Linked DNA regions of Homo sapiens: regions 1 and 3 are each linked to region 2. The links come from fine-mapping of genetic effects on gene expression. A gene starts in region 2. Each other region holds a variant in brackets. All regions are shown on one strand. Distances are between the middles of the regions.

The links. PIP is the estimated chance that this variant, and not a neighbour inherited with it, causes the effect.
Region 1: its variant is fine-mapped to the expression of OR2C3 in blood mononuclear cells (TOPMed, PIP above 0.99).
Region 3: its variant is fine-mapped to the expression of OR2C3 in monocytes (TOPMed, PIP above 0.99).

Annotation. Positions count from the first base shown.
Region 1 is chr1:247,474,524-247,482,902 of GRCh38, forward strand. No RefSeq gene overlaps it. Among named protein-coding and RNA genes, the nearest start is that of OR2B11, 21 kb to the left of the region's middle. The variant C/T (reference allele first, on the strand shown) is at 4,078.
Region 2 is chr1:247,533,485-247,541,863 of GRCh38, forward strand. It overlaps OR2C3 (olfactory receptor family 2 subfamily C member 3), which reads right to left and starts at 2,956. Exons shown (of 3, transcript NM_198074.6): 1 at 2,684-2,956; 2 at 23-394. It also overlaps a transcript of GCSAML not described here.
Region 3 is chr1:247,487,744-247,496,122 of GRCh38, forward strand. It overlaps the pseudogene OR2W5P. Among named protein-coding and RNA genes, the nearest start is that of OR2B11, 34 kb to the left of the region's middle. The variant T/C (reference allele first, on the strand shown) is at 3,948.

The DNA of each region.
Region 1 (8,379 bases), 59 kb before region 2:
AGAGAGGTGAGGAGCCAGCAGTAGGAATGTTCAGACCTAGGTCAGGAGATGCCGATTCTCTTCAGGGGGTCTGGAATTTAATGGCCAGATGGGCAGGACTAACCCAAATTCAGCGAAGAGAGAAAAAACTTGCTGACATTAGAGGGGACCTCCGGAGGTTTATTCTTTTGACTCCTCTGAGACCTGAGTTACTACATGTAGATAATAGTTCAGGGGCTTAGTAGGTGAAAAGGAGCATTCTAGAGGGATTTCTGCTCCTTCTAATTTATTGTCTTTAAAATAATCTTTGTCTTAGGGAATATACCTGAGTGAGCTGAAGGCAAGACCCTGAAACAATAAAATTGTTGTACAACAGGATTAAAATAGAGTCTTTGGCCACATCATGTTTTCATAGGCTTCCTATTAAAGAATGTGCAGAGGGACAGAATGATATCCATCCCAGGGGAATTTTTGTTCAAAATTTTATAGTTAATTACATGTGAAGCAATAACCTAAAAAGAATAAAATATCTAGGAATATAGTTAACCAAAGAAGTGAAAGAGCTCTACAATGAGAATTACAAAACACCTCTCAAAGAAATCAGAGAAGACATAAACAAATGGAACAACATTCCATGCTCATTGGTAGGAAGAATTAAAACTGCTAAAATGACCACACTGTCCAAAGTAAGTTATAGATTTAATGCTAATCTTATCAAGCCACCAATGACATTCTTCACTGAATTAGAAGAAACTATTTTAAAATTCATATGAAATCAAAAAAGAGCTTGAATAGCAAAGGTAATCCTAAACAAAAAGAACAAAGCCATAGGCATCACAACTATATTGTAAGGCTACAATCATCAAAACAGCATGGTACTGGTTCAAAAACAGATACAAGAAACCAAAGGAACAAAATAGAGAGCCCAGAAATAACATTGCAAACCTACAACCATCTGATCTTTGACAATGCTGACAAAAACAAGCAATGGGGAAACGATTCCCTATTCAATAAATGGTGCTGGGATAACTGGCTAGCCATATGCAGAAGATTGAAACTGGACCCCTTCCTTACACCATATACAAAAATGAACTCAAGATGGATTAAAGATTTAAATGTAAAACCTAAAACTATAAAATCCCTGGAAGATAACCCAGAAAATACCATTCTGGACATAAACCCTGGCAAAAATTTCATGACAAAGATGCCAAAAGACACCAAACAATTATTGCTCTTTTTGCAATAAGAGCAAAATTGACAAATGAGATCTAATTAAATGTAAGAGCTTCTGTATAGCAAAAGACTCTATAAACAGAGTAAACAGACAGCCTACAGAATGTGAGAAAATATTTGCAAACTATGTATATGACAAAAGGTCTAATATGAAGAATCCATAAGGACCTTAAACAAAGTTACAAGCAAAAAAAAACAAACAAACCCAAAAAACAAAGAACAACCCCATTAAAAAGTGGGCAAAAGACATGAACAGACACTTTTCAAAAGAAGACATACATGTGACCATTCAGCATATGAAAAAGTGCTCAACATACATGGGGCACAGTGGCTCACACCTATAATCCTAGCACTTTGGAAGGCTGAGGAGGGAGGATCACTTGAGCCCAAAAGTTCAAGACCAGCCTGGGCAACACAGTGATGTAGCGGGACGAGCTGCAGACAAAACCTCTCAGACACCGAGTGGTAGAAGGAAGGGCTTTATTCAGCTGGGAGCATCAGTAAACTACTGTCTTAAAATCTGAGCTCCCTGAGTGCACAATTTCTGTCCCTTTTAAGGGCTCACAACACTAAAGATTTTACATGAAAGTGTCGTGACTGATTTGAGCAAGCAGGGGGTATGTGACAGGGGCCGCATGCACCGGTGGTCAGAGTGAAACAGAACAGAATGGGAGGTTTCACAATGTCCTTCCATACAATGTCTGGGATCTATAGATAACATCAGTTGCTAGGTCAGGGGTGGAATTTTAACTACTAGGTTTAGGCCAGGCAGGCCCAGGCCTGGTTTCGGGTCTGATTTTGGGTCTGGTGCCTGGCGCCAGGCTGCCTGCCTTTGGTTTCACTTCCTTGGTTTTTTCTTAAAACAGGTACTGAGTATAAAACAATATAAAACAGTATGAGAGGGTCTCTCTCTTCTCTCAGTGAGATTCCATCCCTACAAAAAATATAAAAATTATCCAGGCATGGTGGCTACTTAGGAAGCTGAGGTGGGAGGATCACCTGAGCCTGTGGAGGCAGAGATTGCAGTGCTCAAACCACTGCACTCCAGCCTGGGTGACAGAGTGAGACCCTATCTCAAAAAATAAAAAAAAAGCTCCACATCAGAAAAATGCAAATCAAAACCACAATGAGATACCATCTCACACCAGTCAAAATAGCTATTATTAAAATGTCAAAAAAATAATAGATGCTGGCAAGGTTGTGGAGAAAAGGGAACTCATATACGTGACTGGTGGGAATATAAATTAGTTCAGCTCTTGTGGAAAGCAGTTTGGTGATTTCTTAAAGAACTCAGAACTACCATTTGACCCAACAACTATTCACAATAGCAAAGACATGGAATCCATTTAAAAGCCCATCATCCGTAGACTGGAGTTTTTAAATGTGGTACATATAGACAATGGAATACTATGTAGCCACAAAAAGAATGAGATCATGTCCTTTGCAATAACATGGATGGAGCTGGAGGTCATCATCTTAAGCAAACCAACACAGGAACAGAAAACCAAATACTGCATGTTCTCACTTGTAAGTGGAAGCTAAACTTTGAGTACATGTGGCCACAAAGAAGGGAACAATGATCACCAGGGCCTACCTGAGGGTGAAGGGTAGGAAGAGGGTGAGGATCAAAAAACTACCTATCAGGCACTATACTTAGTACCTGGATGACAAAATAATCTGTACACCAAACCCCTGTGATGTGCAATTTACCTGTATAACAAAGCTGCACATGTATCACTGAACCTAAAATAAAAGTTTAAAAAAACCAAAAATACCCATAAATGTTGAGAGAACAAAAAAAGTTCAGAATGATAACATCAGTATTATACCATTTATGTAAAGTTTTAAAGTGTGCAAAAATACTTTATTATTTTTGAATACATGTATGAATTAAAATGAATTTGAATATATGTTTGAAAATGATAAACATAAAATTTGTTTTACCTCTGTGGAAAGAGGGAAATAATATGTTCTCAGGATCTTTGAATATACCTATGTTTTATTTCATAAAAGACCTGGAACATGTAATGCAGATGTTAAAATTTTATAAAGCTGAGTGGTGGTTAGTCTGTCCATTGTTATCTTATTTTGTCTATGTATCTATAAATCCAAAATATTTTATAAGTTTAAAAAATCTACCAACATAATGTCAAATAATCAGTTTTACTGACATTTTCTTGAATTGGCTGAAATAAACAGGTTTTTTGAAAAAAATTACATGTGAAGCAGTATACTTTAAACATTAAACACATCACTTCAGTAGAAAATTGAGAAGTTATTTGGATGGATAGATTTTTATTTTCTTGCCATGGGGGCAACTTTATGGTATCCTTATGAAATACTGTATTTCACAGTACAGTTTTTCTTGAACTGTACTTTTTCTACAATGAAAACCATTATTTTGTTCCAGTCTTCCAATGTTAACTATTATCACCACCATTCAGAGAACTTCAGAGAGGACGAAACTGCTTAGTTTTACTTTATGAACAAGTTATTGGCTAAAATGACTTTTCCCCACCATGGGGGAGCTGGTGATGAGCTTATGCACTCCCAGCTTGGAGAGACAACTGTCACAAATACATGTTTTTTATTTGTATAAATGTAAGGGATACAAATGCAGTTTTGTTACATGGATATATTGCATAGTGGTAAAGTCTAGGTGTTGGCTGTAACCATCGTGCAAATAGTGTACATTGTACCCATTAAGTAATTTCTCATCCCTTATCCCTGTTTCACCCTTCTGAGGCTTCACTGTCTATTATTTTATTTATTTATTTATTGAGACGGAGTTTCACTCCTGTCCCCCAGACTGGAGTGCAGTGGCCTGATCCTGGCTCACCGCAACCTCTGCATTCTGGGTTCAAG[C/T]GGTTCTCCTGCCTCAGCCTCCCGAGTAGCTGGGATTACAGGCGCTCACCACCAAGCCCGGCTAATTTTTGTATTTTTAGTAAAGACGGGGTTTCACCATGTTGGCCAGGCTGGTCTTGAACTCCTGACCTCGTGATCGGCCCACCTCGGCCTTCCAAAGTGCTGGGATTACAGGCGTGAGCCACCGCACCCGGCCATTCACTATTATTTCACACTCTTCCTCCATGTGTACACATTATTTAGCTCCACTTACAAGTGAGCACATGTGGTATTTGACTTTCTGGTTCTGAGTTATTTCACTCCCACATCTAAAAACTCTCCACCAATCTTATTTTATACTCACCTGATTTGATTCACAAAAGAGGCCGTTCCGTTCCTCGGCCTGCAGGTCTCTACCACCTTTTTGGCATTCTGTGGTTCAAGTCGAGATGGTTGGTTGTAGAGATTGCAGAAGACTTACATTTTATACATAGAGGAGTCTGGGTTCCTATGGCAGTATCAATTATGACAACTTTAAGCAAGAAAAGGTGGGAAAAATAGCAGAGGTTACAAAGAGGTTGCTTGAGGGAGACAAAAGGAAAGAAAGAAAGCTGTTAATAAAATATGTCATTTTGACAATGAAGTCAGAATCCTTGCAACAAAAGAATAATGTATTTACTTTTTTCTTTTCTCTTTTTTTTATTTGAAGACAGAGTCTCCCTCTGTTGCCCAGGCTGGAGTGCAGTGGAATGATCTCAGCTCACTGCAGCCTCCGCCTTCCAGGCTCATGCGATTCTCCTTCCTCAGCCTCCTCCCGAGTAGCTGGGATTACAGGCATGCACCACCGTACTGGGCTACTTTTTGTACTTTTATTAGTGACGGGCTTTCACTGTGTTGGCCAGGCTGGTCTCAAACTCCTGGCCTCAAGTGATCCGACTGCCTTGAACATGAGAACACAGGTTGAGCCACAGCATGGTGCAGCTGCTCCAGTTTAGACGGAGCTCAGCGGCAGCTCCTGCTCCCAGGTGGATGCAGCACTGTGGACTTTGGATCGCTCCATCCGATAGTGTTAGCTAGTGTTAGCGGCAGCAAAGATGGCGGTGGTGCTCTGTCGTGAAGGTTGCATGTGTGCGGGCGGAACCAAGGCCTGCTGATGTCCTCCTGCCTCACTTTTTCCCTTTGGAGGGAGGTTGCAGCCAAGGAGATCCCTGTTGGCCCTGAGCTGTGCTGGGCTGGGGAATAGGTTAACACAGGTCCAATGCTTCCAGTGCTTTCTATACGGCCATCCTCAGTTTTCCTGCTTCAATGGGCTGCTGAACCTTGCTATTTGTACCCTGGAGCTCTCCCAGAGTTATTTTTATCTGGGAGTAGTTAAATCATTGTTCTTGTTGGGGAGCAACGGCTGGGACCACGTAATCTGTTTCCTTACTGAAGACTTCCCATTTTCTCCCAATCTCTTCTTATAAGAACACCAGTCATATTGGTGAATTTTAGGGTTTAGAGCCCTCCCTAATAGCCTCATTGTGACTTAATTTCTTCTTTAAAGACCCTATCTTCAAATATAGTCACATTCTGTGTTCCTGGAGGTTAGGCTTTCAATATAAAAAATTGAGGGAGACACAATTCAACCCATTAGAAGGTGCATTTTTACATGTTTTTATGTAAGAACTCTTAGCATCTTAGGGATGCTAAGATGATACATAGCATCATCTTGATATGTAGCATCATCATGATAGCATCATCATGATATGTAGCATCTTAGGGATGCTAACTCTTAGCATCTTAGGGATGCTGATGCTGTAATGTTTGCTTATAGAATAGATATCTTTCTTATGGTGACACTCTGGATTTATTTTTCTGCCTTTAAAGCACTGACACATTTAAGTTTTGTTGTAGTTTTAAGTGTAAAATGATGTTTTATTTCATGTGACTTTTGCCATTTTAAAAACATCATTTATTGAATTAATGTGTTCTCCATCCTCATTTTATGCTAATCTCCCCACATATATTAGTACTAGTTTTATATTCTCAATGATTTGTAATGTTTTTTGGCAACTCAACATTATTTTAGTTTCAGTAAATTTATGCTGATATTTGAAAGGAAGGGTTTTTTTTTTTTTTAAGAGATTGCTAATACCAGTAGGAAGGGATGATGGATATGAAATAGCAACAAGAAGGAATGTCCCATACAAGGGAGTCCCAGGCATGTGAGAGGAGGGAAGCCCATAGCACATAGCATGGACTTCGACAGGAGTAGAGCCCCTCTTTCCACTGAGACAGGGCAAAGGAGCATAGCAACCGAGGCTGCAGAGAGCCTGCAGAGTTAGAATGGGAATGGAGGAATTCTCTGTCTTATGAATTCTGTTTTCTCTAATCAAGTAGGAGGCTGGCTCTTTTACTGAGAAGTGATTGCTTCCTAAGTTGTATGTAAATGAGTTCCTCTAGATATTGCTATGCACCGACTTATACCATATAAACTCTATATTAATATAAGTGAAGATTTTGGTATGCACAATGGGCAATTAGAGTAAATCAATATTCCCTATAGTTTTCCACCTAATTATCACAGGGAGTTCTGTTTGTTCATTCATTCAGCCATTCTCTCTTTCCATCTCTCCATCCATCTACCATCTACCATCTACTACCTATCTCCTATCTATCTATCTATATATCATCTATCTATTATCTATCAATCATCTATGTATCATCATCATCATCATCTGTCAACTATTTATTTATCTGCAACTCTACTCTAGGTAAGGATGATATAATGGAAAAGGTGATGGGTGAGGTGCCTGTTCTCACTTAGTTTATATCCTGGGTTGGGGAGACTTTAACTAGTAAGCAAACAAGTAGGTTCAAAAGATAATTTCATACAATGGGAGGAGTTATGAGAAAAACAAGAGTATAGTATAAATGAGTTATAATCTCTTACACTATTTATTTTGAGACTCAAAAATTTTCCAATATTTTATTAGCAGAACTTGTTCAATCTGGTTCCTGTGTCCAGATGATGGACCTGTTATTCTTCCTTCATCACCTCTTGCTCCAGGCCTGAATCCACAACTGTTTCTCCCAAGAACTTCTTTTTAGTGGAGAAGGGATTTAGTAACTAAATAATGGGTGTTGGGAATGCTCAGTGCTACTGCAGTGTTAACGTTTTTAGGTGTTCTCAGCTAAGAGCTAGGAAATATGCATGCATGAACACACACACACACACACACACACACACACACACACTTCTATATCTACATAAATCTCCATGTGTATTTTTTTTTTTTTTTTGAGACGAAGTCTCGCTCTTGTACCCCAGGCTGGAGTGCAATGGCATGATCTCAGCTCACTGCAACCTCCAACTCCTGGGTTCAAGCGATTCTCCTGCCTCAGCCTCCCAAGTAGCTGGGATTACAGGCGCCTGCCACCATGCCCGGCTAATTTTTGTATTTTTAGTACAGACGGGGTTTCAGCATGTTGGCCAGGCTGGTCTCAAACTTCTGACTCCAGGTGATCCGCCCGCCTCGGCCTCCCAAAATGCTGGGATTACAGGTGTCCACCACCGCACCAAGCCCTCTGTGTGTATTTTAAAATCATGAATATATACTGATATTTCCAATTAAAATTCAATACCATAAGATGTATTGTAGTCTTCCTCTTTCCTTATATGGAATCTCCCTTTCCAATAGTGAAAAACTAGGCCTCCAGTAACCTCAATATATTTACTTATTTTCTCAATCTGTCAGTATATAACTTATCTTTGGCAACCTGTGCCATGTCTTTGGCACTGGTCATGTTGGCTAACACCCTTCAGATGCTCCCTCATGTTCTTTCTGTTCTTGGAAACACACTGGCTGAGCCCCTAGCTATCCCCCAGCCCTAACCCTGGCAGGCATACCAAGTGAGGACCCAGTAAGCTAGAAGCCATGTTTTTAAGAGACAATATGAAGCTAGAAAAGATACAGAATAATTTGTTAAACAAAACACCAAAAGCAGTATTTATAAAGGAAACCATCAGTAAATAGGACTGCGTTAAAATTAAGTACTGTATCAAAAGACAAGAGTAAGAGCAGGGAAAAGCAAGCCCATGATTTGAAAAAAAAGATATTTGTATTACACATAACTGATAAAGGTTTCATAGCCAAGCCACATGAAAAATTTGTATAAATAGATAGGAAAAAAGGTAAGAATCCAATAGAAAAACAGGCTACTTAAAAAGACATTTTTTAAAAGAGGCTATCTAAATAGTCAATGAATTTATGAGAAGATTCCCAACTTATTATTAGTCAGTGAATTGCAAATGAAAACACATAGAAGGATTACTAACAT
Region 2 (8,379 bases):
ATAAATAAATTATCTGACCTACCTTACTGGATTGTAGATCATAAGACCTCCATTCCAGAGAGGTCTTATTGCATACCAAGAAAAAAGGAACACTGCTCAGAGAGGCCAAAAAGAATCTCACGATGGGTCTTGCTGGGCTTCTTCACTCAGTCCATCAGTATTAGATCATGCCCTTCATGTTCAATCATATTTCTACATGGCTGTCCATATGGCTTTGAACCTAAGCATAAAAATGGGAAGTTTCTCTTGTATCTTTGGATTCTCATCTGAAGGCTCCTCTGTTATGTAAAACTATGATCAAATAAATGTGTATGTCTTTTCTCCTATGAATCTGCCATTTGTCAGTTGATTTCTGTGAAATTTCAGAGGACAAAGGTGAAATTTTCCCTCACTCCTACGAAAGCAATCACAGGATTACATTAAGACATATGATCACATCAGTCTGCTGCTCAACACCCTCATTGTCTTGGTACAAGGCTTGCAGCTGCAGTTTGCTATACTTACAGTGCTTTCTCCCCAAGACATCCACACACCCCCTTCCTCACCTTCTTCAGGTCATTTTTGAAAAGTCACCTTCTGACTGAGGCCCTCCCTGACTGTGTTATATAATATTGAAAACCCTCACAACTCCCTTCTCTCTCTTTCCTGAATTATTTTTATATAAGGTGATAATCTTATAACAAATAAACTACTCTTATTTCTTTTGTTTGCTACCCGTCTCGCTCCACTAGATCATAAATTCCATGGAGCCATAGTTTTATCTTTTGTTTACCTCTGGGTCCCCAGTGTCTAACCCAGTGTCTGATACACAGTAGTCCCTTAATCAATATTCATGGACGTGCATCATGAAACAGGTTGCTAGAAAGGTTCTGTGGGGTGGAAGAGGCAGGACTAGAGTAATATGAAGGCAGAGTGGAAGGACTCAGCATAAACTTTCGGTAGTGTTGTCAGGAGAGAGCTCTTGGAACTGCCAGAGTCATGCAGAAGGGTCTGGACTATCCTCTGCTTTTGTACAGTTGGAATAAAACGAGCACGATTTAGCAGGGGCAGTGCATAAAGTCAGAAACTGGACAATTTCAGTGTGCTTCCGATGTCCCTGAAGACCTTTGGGGCCCTTCTTTGCAAAACATTAATTCTAGCCTGTATTTTAAAAAGGAGAATCAATTTATTATAGTTAAGATTCACCCAGATTAGGGGAACAGAGCAGCTGTGAACTTAACTATCAGCCTTCTTAAAATCCCAGAGAGTAGAATTTACCTATCCCTGTAACTGGAAGTCAATTAAACAAAATAGACATGAACAGACATGTGCATTCAGTTTTAAAAATACAGGTAGGTTTTCCATTGTGCATGTATAGAAATGAGGCTCAGAAAACTCTAGGCATTTGTTAAAATTCACACGTGGAAGCTGTCCCATTGTGGACTTACTGTGTCAGAATACTGAGACAATCATCTGGCCTGCATATAGTAGGCCAGGGAAGCATTAATACTATGGGAGAAGGCATCCTGGAGAATACATTCCAACCTCCTCCAAATCAGGGAGGCAAGCCGGGGGCGGTGGCTCATGCCTGTATTCCTAGCACTTTGGGAGGCTGAAGTGGGGGGAATCACTTGAGCTCAGGAGTTTGAGACCAGCTTGGGCAACATAGTGAGAGATTGTCTTTACAAAAAAATAAAATAAAATGACTGAGTGTGGCTGTGTGTGCCTGTAGTCTCAGCTACTTGGGAAGCTGAGGCTAGAGGATGGCTTCAACCCACGAGATCAAGGCTGTAATGAGGCATGATTGTGCTACTGCACTCCAGCCTGGGCAACAGAGCAAGACCCTGTCTCAAAACAACAACAAACAAACCAATCAGGGAGGTAGAGTTGAGACCTGTCAAAACGTGGATGTTTTCATCATGTGAATGTGAGAGAGAAAAGATGAACTGGGATTGGGAGAGTTAGGTACAACTGAGTCATGACAGTCAAAGTGGGTGTACTGTATATAGAGTCACCGCAGGTGAGCTGAAAAACAACAGGTTAAACTGACAACTGCATTATGACCCGTGGGTGTAAGTATATCCCATCTGTGGAAAGATAAAAATTTTGTTGACTCACAGTTGATAACATGCAGAAAATGTGTAAATGATGCTGAGAGGAACCACAAGGTCACTCATGAGGTAATAGTTTAGTAGAATTTTTGAGGAAAAAGAGATCTTTGTGGTGATCTGATCTACTTCTAGAAATGTTTAGTAACTTATCCAAAGCCCCTGGGCTGCTTAGTCATACTGGAGCTATACCCAAGATACTCAGATTCTTAGTACAAAAATAGCGTTTTCAGTAAAGGAAGAGGTTTGCTTACCCGCAGAGATTCACCAAAATTGTCACAATTAAAAACTCACTTTTCAAAATGCAACCCTATCCCAAACACTGTGCCATTAAGACAAAGATAGCATACTGAAAGTTAAGGAAACGTCTTGAGTTCAAATTTTGTCTGAGTTAACTAGGCAGTCACAAACTGTATCGCAGAACATAGGCAAGCTGCTAGAATATCAAAGGCCACATGAGGAAATCAGATCATTTAAACGGATCAGTGCTTATCAATTTTAACTGGAATTACCAGAAAGTCTGAGATCCAGTTTATCTTAAATACCATAAACAACAACAACAACAAACAAACGACAAAATTCAAAATGTCACTTACTAATGGTGAGCTAGCAGCATCATCTCTATTTATGCAGGGTGGAAATGTTGTAAAATGGGCAATATTTTATTAAAAAGACTGATAACATTCATGAATTCAATGCGTGTGGCATTAAAAAAATAGGAGTTTAGCCAGGGGATTTTAAAGCCCTGCAAATAGTGGAAATCTCTAAGTCGGTGGTAGCAGACGTGTTAGATTCTGTTCAAATTCATGTCTAAAGGACACATTATTAAGTATTTAAATCACAATGGGATTGAACTAGCAGAAAGCACTTAAAATACTTTGTAAGAAAATTGATAATCAAAGGAGTGAGAATGGCTCATGGTGTTTCCAGAATGAGAAAGTATATGCAGACCCTAAAGGGTGAAGTGTGACATAAAGTCCTTATAATTCTAAGACATTGATTGTAACCCCTGGAGCCTTCAGGAGGGAGCCTGAGGGTGATGGCATATATCAGGGGAGTAAAAGTGGAGGGAAAAAAGCTTTTGGGATTTCTTTCCCTATTGGATAATTATAACTTCATTGTATTACACACACAGAATTGTTTCTTTTTTATGACTGGAATATTATTTTAGTTTTTATACTGCCAAACTGCTTATGGAGCGTAAGAATCAAGTCTCTCTATCATGTAGTGAGGGAGATAGTCTGAGACATTTGCTCATTCTGTTAATTTTGATACATGCTGCTATAGACTCTTTTTTTAAAAAAACCATTGATTTTATTATTGGTGTATACATCAGTGATGAGATAATGTTTTTCTTAATAAGTTAAATTTATCAATTTATTTTTATTTTGGTAAAATACAGATAGCATATAAATTTATCATTGTAACTATTTTAAGTGTGCAAGTCAGTGGAATTAAGTTCTTTCACAAGACTGTACCATCACCTCTATCAAGCGTCAGAACTTTTTCATCACCTCAAATGGAAAACCTGTAGCCATCGAGCAGTCAGTCTTCATTTGCCAGCTCTCCCTAGCCCTGCCAGCCACTAATCTGCTTTCTCTATGTATGGATTTGCCTATTTTGGATATTACATATAAATGGACTTATATCATACATGTTATTGTGTCTGGTTTCTTTCATTTAACATGATATTTTCAAGGTTCATCTATGTTGTAGCGTGTATCAGTACTTCATTCTCTTTTAAAGAGGAATAATATTCCATTCTATGACTCTACCACCTTTTGTTTATTCATCTGTTGACAGACATTTGGGTTAGTTTGTTGATGAACATTTGAGTTGTTTCTACCTTTTGGCTATTGTGAATAGAGCTGCTATGAACATTCACATACAAGTTTTTGTTTGAACTCCGTTTCTGATTCTACTGGGTATACCTGGGAGTGGAATTGCTAGGTCTTATGGAAATTCTATGAACAACTTACTATTGAACCAGCAAACTTTTCTGCTGCAGCTAAACAGTCTTTACATTTCTACAAGCAATTTGTGTTCCAGTTTCTCCACATAATCACCAGCACTTGTTATTTTCCACTTTTTACAATCTTTTTTTTTTCCTTTATGGCCATCGTAGTGGATACAAAGTGGCATCTCATTGTGGTTTTGATTTGTGTTTCCCAGCAGCTAATAATGTTGTGCATTTTTTAATGTGCTTGTTGGCCACTTACTTGTCTTCTTTGGAAAAATGTCTATTCAAGTCTTTTGCCTATTTTTTGATTGGGTTGTTTGTCTTTTTGTAAGTGTTCCTTATATACTCTGAATATTATACCCTTATGAAATACATGATTTGCAAATATTTTCTCTCGCTCTGTATATTGTCTTTTAACTCTTTTGACAATGTCTTTTTGATGAACAAAAGTTTCTAATTTTGATGAAGACTAATTTATCTATTTTTTTTGTTGTTGTTTTTGGTTTTCATGTCATATTTAACAAAACAGTGAGACTTCCAAGGTCATGAAAATGTACTTCTATGATTACTTCTAAGAGTTTATAATTTTTTGCTCTTTCATTTAGGCTTTTGATGTATTTTGAGTTACGTTTTGTATATGCTGTAAGGTAGGGTCCAACTTCATTCTTTAGCAGGTGTCTATCCAGTTGTGTTGAACTGGATATATGTGTTGAAAGGATTACACTTTCTCTATTGACACCCTTGTCAAAAATCAAGTGACATAAACCCATAGACGTATGTTAGCTAGTATCTAGTCTAATGGGTCCAAATATGAACCGTATTCTGAAGACTCTCTGAATTATATTCCTGGCCAGCACCTCTATGCCAAACTTCAGATTCACATATCTAACTGCCTATACTACAGCTTCATTTGGATGGTGTTATGAACTGAATTGTGCCCTACACCCATTCATATGTTGAAACCATAACCCACAATGTGACTATATTTGGAGATAAGGCCCTTAAGGGGATAATTATGAGTAAATGAGTTTATAAGAGTGGCAGCCTAATGTCATAAGATTGGAATACTTATAAAAAGAGTAAGAAATACTAGCTATCTTCCCTCCCTGCCTACCCCAGTCTCTTTCTTTCCACACATGCACAGAGGAAAGGCCAGATGAGGACACAGCAAGCAGGCAGATGGCTGCGAGCTGGAAGGGAAGCGTCATCAGAAACCAACCCTGAGGGTACCTTGATCTTGGACTTCCAGTCTCCAGAACTGTGAGAAAATACATTTCTGTTGCCCGCCACCACCCAGTTTGTGGTGTTTTGTTATGATATCTCGACCTGCCTAATACAGATGGCTAATGCAAAGCTCCAGTGCAACACTTTAGAAAACGAACCCTGTTGTACACCTGACCTCCTCCAGCTGCAGTCTCCTCTTCTCAGTTGATGACAACTGAGAACTCTATTCTTCCATTTGCTTAGTCCAGAAGCTTGGAGTCCATGTGGTTCCAAACCCATGGCACCGTATGCCAATCACTGAAATGATGAGTTTTGTGGCAGAGAATGAGTTTATTTATGAGGGAGTCAAGTGAGAAAGCAGGAGAACAGGTCTCAAATCAGTCTCCCTGAAAATGGGATTTTAGGGATATTTATGGGATAGAGGAGTGAGGTGGTCCAAGGTGTAGGAAAATGTGATTGGGGTAGGAAAAAATGAGGTAATCAGTAATCTGCTCAAATATAGTCAAACTTCATGGCTCTTCATAGCACACATGTTCACAAAATGGTGTCATTAACATGATCTGAGGGTGGAGTTTTGGGCACTGTGACATCTAAAGGTCACCCATTGGATATTCACGCAGGTCCAGTTGGGGACCAGTGGTTTCAGCTAGCTTGAACTGGACAAGAGTTGACCCTCGTTCCTGAAAAGAACTTAAGCAATCGTTACCACAGTGATCTATACATGAGAGATGTTATCTCTGAGGAAACTGGTGGCAGTTTTATTTTTTTTTATTATATATTGCTTAGCTACGTGACCTTTAGCTATGAAAATCTTAAAATAAACTAGAAACAAGTGACCGACTAAAAGCAAGCGACTAAAGCCAGTGAGGCAAGTTAAGTCTGGGCCTAATCAGGGGAGCCCTCGGCCTCAAACATTGACCCCTCTCATTTCCACGACCTCTGTTCCTCACATATAATCTGTCAGCAAATCCTTTTGACTCTATTTTTAAAGATATCCAGATTACAATCATTTTTACAACGAATCACCCTGTCTCAGCTAGATTACTTGTATTAAAATCACAACGATTTTACTTGAAAACGCTTCACTGACTTCCTACCTGACTCTGTAAATACCCCATGTTGTTTCATAATCCATGAGTATCTACTGTCTGCGCCTTCCCCCTCCACACACATTACCTCTCTGATCCCACTTCCCACCACTTCTCCCATTCCTCCCTCTACTGTAGCCTCACAGGCTTCCTCGCTCCTCAAAAACGCCAGGCTCTCACTTGCCATGCTGCTTTTAGCTCTGCTGGTTCCTCTGCCTAGAATAGTCTCTCTCTCTCTCTCTTTTTGATACAGAGTCTCGCACTGTTGCCTGGGCTGAAGTGCAGTGGCCCAATCTCAGCTTACTGCAACCTCTGCCTCCCGGGATTACAGGCATGTGCTACCACGCCTGGGTAATTTTTTGTATTTTTAGTAGAGATGGGGTTTCACCATGTTGGCCAGGCTGGTCTCGAACTCCTGACTTCATCATCCACCTGCCTAAGCCTCCCAAAGTGCTGGGATTATAGGCTTGAGCCACCACGCCCAGCCAGTTTCCATCTCTTAACAAGTGCTTGGCTGAGGCCTCACATCTGTCCTTAACCTTCACCTCAGAGGCATTTTCCCTGATGGTGTTACTTCGAATTGTCAAACTTATCCTTTTCCCACTTCTGCTCTATTTCTCTCCGGAGCACTGTTCAGCACGTATTGAAGCATTCTACATGCTTATTTTTACTTATGTGTCTTGTTCTGTCAGAATAGAAGCTCATGAAGGCAGTGGTGTCTACTTTGTTTCTTCTGCATCCCCAGTTTCCGAGCATGGGCACGAAGATGCAGCTTAATAAAGGAGTGCTGATGTGTGAGCAGATGTATGAACTGAAGGTGGGGGCAGTGACCACTGTGGGGATGCAAGAGCAAGTGGGGGAGGGAGGCCTTACTTTATTGCAAACGAGCAAGCTTTCTGCAACGCGTCAGAAGGATTAGAAAGGATAAGACTGCACTCCGGGTTTTGCAGTTTCTCTTTTCTTTTCAATTCACGTAGAATACAATCACTCCACTACCAAATATTTGTCATTCATGCATTTCCTAAACTGTAACCACCTGCAAGGAAAAAAACTCAAGAGCCTTTGAGAAAGTTGTAATGTCTTGCATATCCTCATTTTTATATGTTCTCTATTTCTGTTTAGAAGGCATTGAGTTACTGAGTATTAAAAATAAAAGAAACTGCTGAAAAGAATTTTTTTCAAAAATGACACAAATATTCTTTTAAGTGACAGTTACACTACTCAAGCCTTTTATTTTTTCATCCAGACATTTCTTTACCCATTTGGTCATAGTTTTGTCTAAACCTATGCTGGTTTAAATTATAAATCCTGTGACTATTTTCTTGCAAAAGCTTTTTCAATTTTTTTTTTCCTATTGAAGCTATTAAAACAACAAGGAAATGCCTCTTGCTAGTTAGAGCAATGCATTGCTTATAATTAATGTCTTTTGGCAATTTCCCAGCAACTGAGCTTCTCAGAACTCAAGTTTCCATGGTATATCCTTGAGCAAAGCAGTAGGTTTGGCCTCCCATGTCATATGGATCACAGTTGGTGGGGTAGAATATTGAGAACTAATTCAGCTATTCATTATATGTCGGTATTTTCCGCACGGTCTCATCATGGCCTATATGGAGTACTCAGTCTCATCCCCAAATGGCTGAAACTGGGGTGCAGATGGAACCAAGGTGGAGCCCAAATAAAAAATCAGGTCTCCTGCACACAGAAAATGAATGGTGTTTTCAAATCAAACTACAAGTCAAAAAACACACAGACACTCCAAATTTGAGATGTTGGCCTGAAACCCGGCTGCTTCTTGAAATAGAAAAACCCTTAGGTGAGCAGTAATAGGGATTTCTATTTTTAAGAATGGCAGAGGACTCCTAGAAAAGATGGATAGAAAAACCTGGCTGAGCACAGTGGCTCACATCTGTAATCTCAGCACTTTGGGAAGCTGAGGTGGGCGGATCACTTGAGGTCAGGAGTTTGAGACTAGCCTGCCCAACATGGTGAAAACCTGTCTCTACAAAAAACACAAAAATTA
Region 3 (8,379 bases), 46 kb before region 2:
CTGTGTTGCCTCCCCGGTGAGTTTTGTGTTTGTGTGTGTTGTGGGGGGCGGGGGGCGGGGGGGGGGCGGTGGCCGGGCCAATCTCTAGATGACACGAGTCCCTGAGGTCTTAGCTCTGTGAACAAGCTGATGTCACTTTTCCTCATGCCCCTAGATGACTCCAAATCCCCAAGGTGAGATGGCATTGAAGTTGTCCTCCTATCCACTTAGTATGAACCAATCAAATGACATTGTCTATATTCTCAAAGCTCTTAGAACTAAGTGTGCTTTCCTTTATCCCTGGGGCTGGTCTGCCATCTCCTTGACCCTAGACTACCTGTATATATGGACGTGAGATAAAACATGTTGACTTGAAATGTGGCACTATGCCACACCACTCACTTAGCTTGTCATTCCTGCCCACAGTTCATCATTTCTCTTCCAAGCTCTGCTACTTAAAGGCTTATTAACACTTAAATGGGACAGACATTATTTTTGTGCTCAATCTCCTTTCAGGGTTTTCAGTGTAATTTCCTCTGGAAGATCCAGAAACTAAAAGGGACAAGAATTAGCTGCCTTATCCATGAGAAAACTCCTGGTTGGTCTCCGGAATTGAAGTAAGGAGGGTTGACAGAATCATAGGTCTTCTACTTTCTGGGAAGAACAAGGGTGAGATTTTAATACAAGCTTTGTCGTGGCAATGAGATTTATATCTGTATCTTCAGTCGTCTGTATGCAGATATAGAGTTATCTTGTAATAGTTTTGATTAGAGTTTATATCTGTTAGAACACCAGAGTAACGGGTTTCTCAATGCCAACTCGCAATTTGGAACTCCATTTTGGAAAAGAGACATTGTATCCAACTCGGAAACAATCAAATGCACCAAATTCTAGCAAAGTGTATCTAAAGTAGATTAGGAGTGATTATGTGATTATCCATTATCCATTTGTCCATTGCTAGCTGAGCCAATCCTAGGGCCTCTTCTGAGCCTACATGCACACACAATAAACCAATCTTTTTAGTCTCTTGATAAAATGATAGCTGATTTGAACAGAGAACCGTGTAATTCTGTTTTCGCACAAATCAAGCATTGCAAATCTCTGGCGATTTTGAGAGTGATCACAAGCTTCTCTCTGGAAACTGCTCATGATGATGGATTTTATTGTTAGGATTGTAATGTGTAGGTTAATGGGAGTGCTGTAATGAGTGATCAACTTTAAACAACTACAGCTTTAAGTGGGTGAGAAATAGGAACAGGGAGGAAGGCAGAATGAATGGAAACTTGGGTTAATGCATAGGGCTGGCACTATAAACCTTGCTCTGATATGAAGCTGTAGTGCAAGCATTGGCTATTCTTTCTTCTTCTCTATTATTGAGGTTGATCATCTCTAACATGGAGATTCTAATGCCTGGCCTGTCCACTTTGCAGGGCTGCTGTGATGATGGTCTGAAACTAGAGTGTGAAAGCTCTGTAAAAGTCTAATGTACGCTAATGTGAAAGGGTTGTGATTGTTTATGTTGTGCTCTATACCTAAGCCAGGCAAAAATAGCTCTATTGCTTGGCATTGTTAAATCCTTTTCAGTAAGCACAGAGAACCATTTGGTGGATTCTCCTCTATATGGGTTGGTACAGTTTTGGGCATAACCTTCAGCCAGAGAATCAACCCAATTCAGACCTTGGCGTCTAAGTTTTCAAAATTAGTAAGCATTTATAGTATTATGTGTCAACTAAACTATTAAAGGTATTTGGGCATTTCTAAGAGCTGTATTCCTTGCAATTTCATGGTTCTGAACTAAAGAGCTAAGAAATGTGAGAAGACAGGATGCATTAATTTATAGTTGAATACCTGTTAGGTGAAACAGAGAAGAGCCTCTGCATATTTGTCATAAGGGTGAGCAGTGGGACATTTTGGATTGAAAGAATAAAGCATTGTGAAAAAAAGTAGTTTTGAACAGATGACTACAAGGTAAATTTGCAGTTTTGGTTAAGGAGTCAGACCCTAAGTGATAAACTTTGCTGAGATCACCCAAAGTGATCACAACTTTATCACCCAAAGTGATAAAGTTGCTGAGCAATTTGTGTAGCTTGTCATTGCCACTCTTGAGGTCTCCTGAACCTGGGAGAAAACTTATGATAGGTCTGAGGATACAGAAGTACAAGTTGTTCATAATAACCAACACCTGTAAAATGTGTGTCTGTGAAAGTCTCCTTTGTGAGTACTCAGGAAGCCTCTGAAAGTCTTCCATTCTTTGACACTTGGCTGGCTACTTCTGATAGACCCTGCCTCTTTTACCCTTTCATAGGGCTTTGCAGAGGGTCCGGTGCCTGGACCAATGGATGGGAACTACAGAATTCCCAATTGCAGCTCCAACAGGATACAGCTCATAGCATGTCAGTTGTCAGGATGGACAGGTGGTGACAGCGGCTGCATAGACACATGTCCTTCAATGTGTTTCTGTGCCCTCATTCCCACAGCTTCCTTCTTGTGTGTTGCCCAGATGCCGTTTGCTATTATCATAGCAGATACAAGCCTGGGTGGATATTGGCTGTATAAGGCAGAGTCCCCATCAAAGCCCTTGGCTTAGACTGTGGAAATCCTCAATAGCTGAAAGTGCTCAGGGTATATACTCAGTGTCACCAGTTACATAGACATGTGAGGTCTGAGTGGGGACTTAGAGAAGATCTAGCCTCTTTCCCATGTTGCACAAGGAAAAGCCAAGTTAGAGAGAGATGAACTGAATAGCAGGCCATACATTTGCAGACCTGTGTTTTACAGAGGCAGAATTAAACCTATCATCACAGTCCTTTCTTGTAGGGTCAAAAATCACTGTGTTTCATCTTAATAAAATTACATGCCATTAAGGAGTTGCCTGGTACGTACATTCATGGCTTCCTTAAGCATCACCCATAAATGTGGTCCTTCATGACTTTGTATATACTACCTCCTCTTTGTGAAACATATTTAGCTCAATCTGCCACATGTCAAATTCTTACTTATTATTTGCAACAACCAAAAACAACTCTCAGACTCAGCAGTCTCCCTTAATACAAACTGTTCTACACAGGCCCTCCTGATCACTTGGGAGTGATCTGCATAATACTCAGCCTTTTAACGCATCTTCTTTTAGAGAACTTTCTCTTTCTCCCTTCTTTGTCATTATTCATACACATTATTCACCAAGGAGGGAAGCTCCAGAGTCAATTCATCCCGTCTTCCTGGGGCATCAGGCACACGACTTTGCATGTAACAGGTTTCAATAAGTCTATTCTAAAAAAGCAAAGAAAGGGCAAATGGCTCTCTTAACTTCACAGACCTGTAAATGGAAATTGGAGAGTGCCAGATCATCTGCATGTGCCCCCTTATCTAATTCTTTGGTTGTTTCTCTGTAATAGCTGGTGGATTATGGGAAAGGACAATGCCAGTTACCTACAGGCATTCATCCTGGTGGGCTCTTCTGATCGGCCTGGACTGGAGAAAATTCTCTTTGCTGTTATCTTGATCTTCTGCATCCTGACCCTGGTGGGCAACACTGCCATCATCCTCTTGCTGGTCATGGATGTCAGGCTCCACACACCCATGTACTTCTTTCTTGGGAATCTGTCTTTCTTAGATCTCTGCTTTACAGCAAGCATTGCCCCTCAGCTGCTGTGGAACCTGGGGGGTCCAGAGAAGACCATCACCTACCACGGCTGTGTGGCCCAACTCTACATCTACATGATGCTGGGCTCCACCGAGTGCGTCCTCCTGGTTGTCATGTCCCATGACCGCTATGTGGCCGTCTGCCGGTCCCTGCACTACATGGCAGTCATGCGCCCACATCTCTGCCTGCAGCTGGTGACTGTGGCCTGGTGCTGTGGCTTCCTAAACTCCTTCATCATGTGTCCTCAGACGATGCAGCTCTCCCGGTGTGGACGTCGCAGGGTGGACCACTTCCTGTGTGAGATGCCTGCTCTTATTGCCATGTC[T/C]TGTGAGGAAACCATGCTGGTAGAAGCGATTCACCTTTGCCCTGGGGGTGGCTCTCCTCCTGGTGCCGCTCTCCCTCATCCTCATCTCCTATGGCGTGATTGCAGCCGCGGTGCTGAGGATGAAGTCAGCAGCAGGGCGAAAGAAAGCCTTCCACACCTGCTCTTCTCACCTCACAGTGGTCTCTCTCTTCTACGGAACCATCATCTACGTGTACCTGAAGCCGGCCAACAGCTACTCCCAAGATCAGGGGAAGTTCCTGACTCTCTTCTACACCATCGTCATTCCCAGCATCAACCCCCTCATCTACACTTTGAGGAACAAGGATGTGAAGGGGACCATGAAGAAACTTCTGGGGTGGGAGAAAGGGGCTGGGGAGCCTCAACGAGGGGAACACTCTAGTAATGTAGACAGTTTGCTGGAGTTACTCTCTTAGATGTGTCTGTGGCCATGTGGAGAACTAATATTCAAGGAGTAGAGTGAACGCGGGTGGGAAAATGCTTTCGAGTTTGACCCCGTCCTCTGCCCTCTGGATGTGAAGTGGTTTCCTTCTGTTTGAAGTTGCCTGCTTCAGGATATCTCTGCTGTATCTTGCACTTTCCTTGTCTTTTTGATTTATCCACAACTGCTGGGGACTTACAAAACTAATTCAATCACCCAAAGGCACTGGGCAGTCTGCAGATTATGTCATGGATGTCAAATAAAAATTGAGACAACATGAGTGGCCTTTTCTTCAAGCCCTTTTATTTGCTTCTGTGGCAGTTTTTCAAAGAGAGAGGGGTCAACATCAGTAAAGTTATAGTGCCCTGTCCTGGATACAGGTTGGTTCTGTATGAGTGGGGAATGTCCTTTGAGTTGCTTTTTGAAAAAGCAGAATTTGCTCAGAGTTATTTGCATCTTCTCCTTGACCTTTTCGCATAGCCAAAGTACCTACAAAAGAGCTGACTCTAGTCAGGAATGCAAGCCTTTGGGAAGAACAGAGCAAATGATACACATCCAGATAGAATGAATTTGTTCTCCTTAGCAGATTAAACAGCTGTAAATATTCTACTTCAAAGAGAGCTGTCCTATACTCAAATTAATTACCACCCCCAACCTCCACAAATAACTCTGATGACCAATCTTATAAAATCAGTGCATATTGGAATTGGACATTACTAAAAGCAGTGTTTCCAAAACTTGATCGTGCATCAGAACGCTTAAGGCACAAATTTCCAAGAACTCTCCAAATTTCCTGAATCTACAATGCCAGGTGTGGGTCTAGGCATCTCTGTCTTTAAAAAGCTCCCTAGGTGTTACTGATGATAGATTTTGAAATCATTGTTTTAGAGATAATAAAAATCCAGCTCCTCACATTACCCAGGACTCTTCCTGTAGCATTCTGAATCCCTGGCTGCCTTCACTGGGTATGAATGATCCTGTGCACCAGGCATGGGGAAGACAGTATCATCCATATCTGGACTTGGAACTGATTTATCTTCTCACCAGTTAGCTTTCGAAGCCTAGCCTTTTTCATCTGTATTATGGAGGTCATACTCTTCACCTTAGAGGGTTGTAGTAGAGATTAAGCAAGACAAAGTATGTTAAATATGAGGTGGGTGGTCTCTCAGTAATACTTTTTTTTTCATGTACCACAGGCATTGGGCAATCTATTCTTTTGTAGGTCTTATGCAATTGTTATTTAGATCTTGTTTTTAGTAAAATTCTGCTTCAGTATTTTTCCATTTATTATCTGCAAGATGCAAAATGTTCTCTTCCAGGTGTAGAAAACACCCTTTCCTTGCTTCTTTCAGATTAGGTAGATAGGATCCCTCACAAACTCTCAGAGAACTTTGCTGCCTACTTTTGCACCCTAATAGAAATGTGGGTTGGGGGGTGAGGTGGTGATTCAGGGTAAGTGTGCGGATTTCACATTATTTGTAGATAATACCAGTTCAGGCTTTTTGAATTATGGGGCAGAGCGTGTCCATAGACTATCACAGAGGCTAAATCTATGAGATAACAAAAATACCCAGACAGAAATGGAAAAAAATTTCAAAGTTGTTTAACCAGGTGTTTTGGAACTATTGCATAAAATATTTCAAAACCCATTGCTCCAGTCGTCTTCCTGTATAATAAAGATGATCATAGGACATGTGAAAAATAGATATTCTTTACCCTATTTGCAAATAATGTGACTAAAACACAGGGAGGCTAAGGGAGTTGCTTAAATTACAAGGCAAGTGAATACCTAAGATGGCATTCATTATTTGTCAAACATTTCCCAGGGAGTTTTTCATTCCATTAACTGCTTACACATTTAGGTCCTATGTGGTTAAATTTGGACTTTAGGACTGTTTAGTATCCAAATGCTATTTTTTATTGATAAAAAATTTAAGTTTTTCTTTTAAAATCTTTTCTTTTAAAGTTTTTCTTTTAAAATCATCCAAGGGCATTATCCTAGAGATAAAAGATTAAAAAAATTTGTCTGTTAATCCAAATACCAGTCCTTTTCTTTACTCCAATTCTCCTGGTTGAGTTTTTGTGGCATAAAAACTGCCAGGAAAGCACCCCCATACATCTAATGAGTATATTTTCAGCTGATGTGCAGGAGGGTACTGGCCACAGCTGTGAACATCATTTCCCACGTGTTTTTTTCTTTATATTAATGCTATTTCTGTGATAAATTTTTCAACGGATCAAGTTAAGGAGTATTCATTAAATGCATATAATACCCTGGAAATTGTAAGGAAATCAAAGAAATTGACATGGCTATAGGGGCCTGTCCACTCACAGTTCCTAGGGTACACTACCACTCGGACCCCTGTCATTTGTCCTAGCACTGACACTGCAACAGTGGACGTTTTCATCCAATAACACCTTTATCTTGGATACAGTTAGTGATGAGTTGGAGTTTCAGGGTATGGGGAGAGGAATCAATCAACCCATCTACAAATTGACCATTGACTTGTGTGCTTTAGTTTTGTCAACTTTAAAATAATAAGATTCAGAAAATATGATTAAATGTGGAGTTTATTTGAGGGCAAAGCTTGAGAATTAGCCACCTGAATAACACAGACTCCCAAGAAATGGAGTCAGTACTCCAAAGTGGAAAAGTTAAAGTTTACTGATTTAGGCAGAAGCAGAGAAATTTAGCAGAGTTACAGTAGTTCTCATATAAGGTCAGTAAATACATTATAGTGATTTGATTAGGTACAGCTGGCTACGTGCCAAGGAAAATTGTTTAACATGAACACTCCACAAGAAGGGGTAATGGTCTCAAGGAATCTTATCTCTGGTACGATTTAGTCTTTCCTAATCATTTACAGGAAAAAGCAGAAGTTGCAGCTGTATGCTACATGACTCAGGCCACATAGTCACACTCCTCTTAAGGCTCAAAATAATTTAAATTTCCAACAGCTGAAATTTGAATTACTTATTTCACAGTTTGATAAACTTGGTTAATCTGATTTCTCTGTAGGGACTTAAGAAACTGACTCAAAGGTCCTCCCCCCAAATTCTCATCAATTGGAAAGAAAATAGAATAAAATACTACTATAATAAAATTGGACAAAGTAATGATATAACAAACAGTAAGGTAGAGATGGAATAGTAAGAAAATATTTGACCAGAGAATTGAACTAGAACATAAAATTGTGAAATTCTGATGCTCTTTAAAAAGTATTTGGGAAGTACAGAAAGACAATAATGGTACCTGAAAAAAAGAATTTCTGTCTGAAAAAAAGTTTGTGTATGGAAGGCAGGTAGAGTAAGATTGATTGTAAATGATGTTAAATCTGGCTGGGTGCGGTGGCTCATGCCTGTAATCCCAGCACTTTGGGAGGCTGATCACTTGAGGTCAGAAGTTTGAGACCAGGCTGACCAACATGGTGAAACCCCATTTCTATTAAAAATACAAAAATCAGCCGGTCATGGTGGTGGGCACCTGTAATCCCAGCTACTTGGGAGGCTGAGGCAGGGAGAATCCCCTGAACTGGGTAGGCAAAGGGTGGATTCCTTCCTTCCTTCCTTTCCTTCCTTCCTTTTTTTCTTCTTCTGTCAGCAAGTATACTATGCTAGGACAATGGAGATACATATATGAAAGACTTAAAGAAAAAATGCAACCTGATGCTGAAAATGTGCCGTGGAATGAATGAGGTGGTACTTGATCATTGAAGTTTGGGTGTTTCTATAGGAGATGAAGTCTGTTTTGAGTCTTAAAGAGTGAATAAGTTAGAAAGGAAAAGAATGGGAAGGAAATGCTATACGTAAAAAATAAAAAGACTGTGCTGGTCAAAGAGAAGACGAAAGGTATTTTGAGTTTGGTAGTTTGACATGTTTGTTTGTAGGGTTCTTATGGGGAATTGCCATGGTTAAATAATGGAGGCATAGGCAAGAACAAGGTTGTTGGGCACACTCTTCTAACAAAATACCAAGTTGAGGAACTTGGATTTC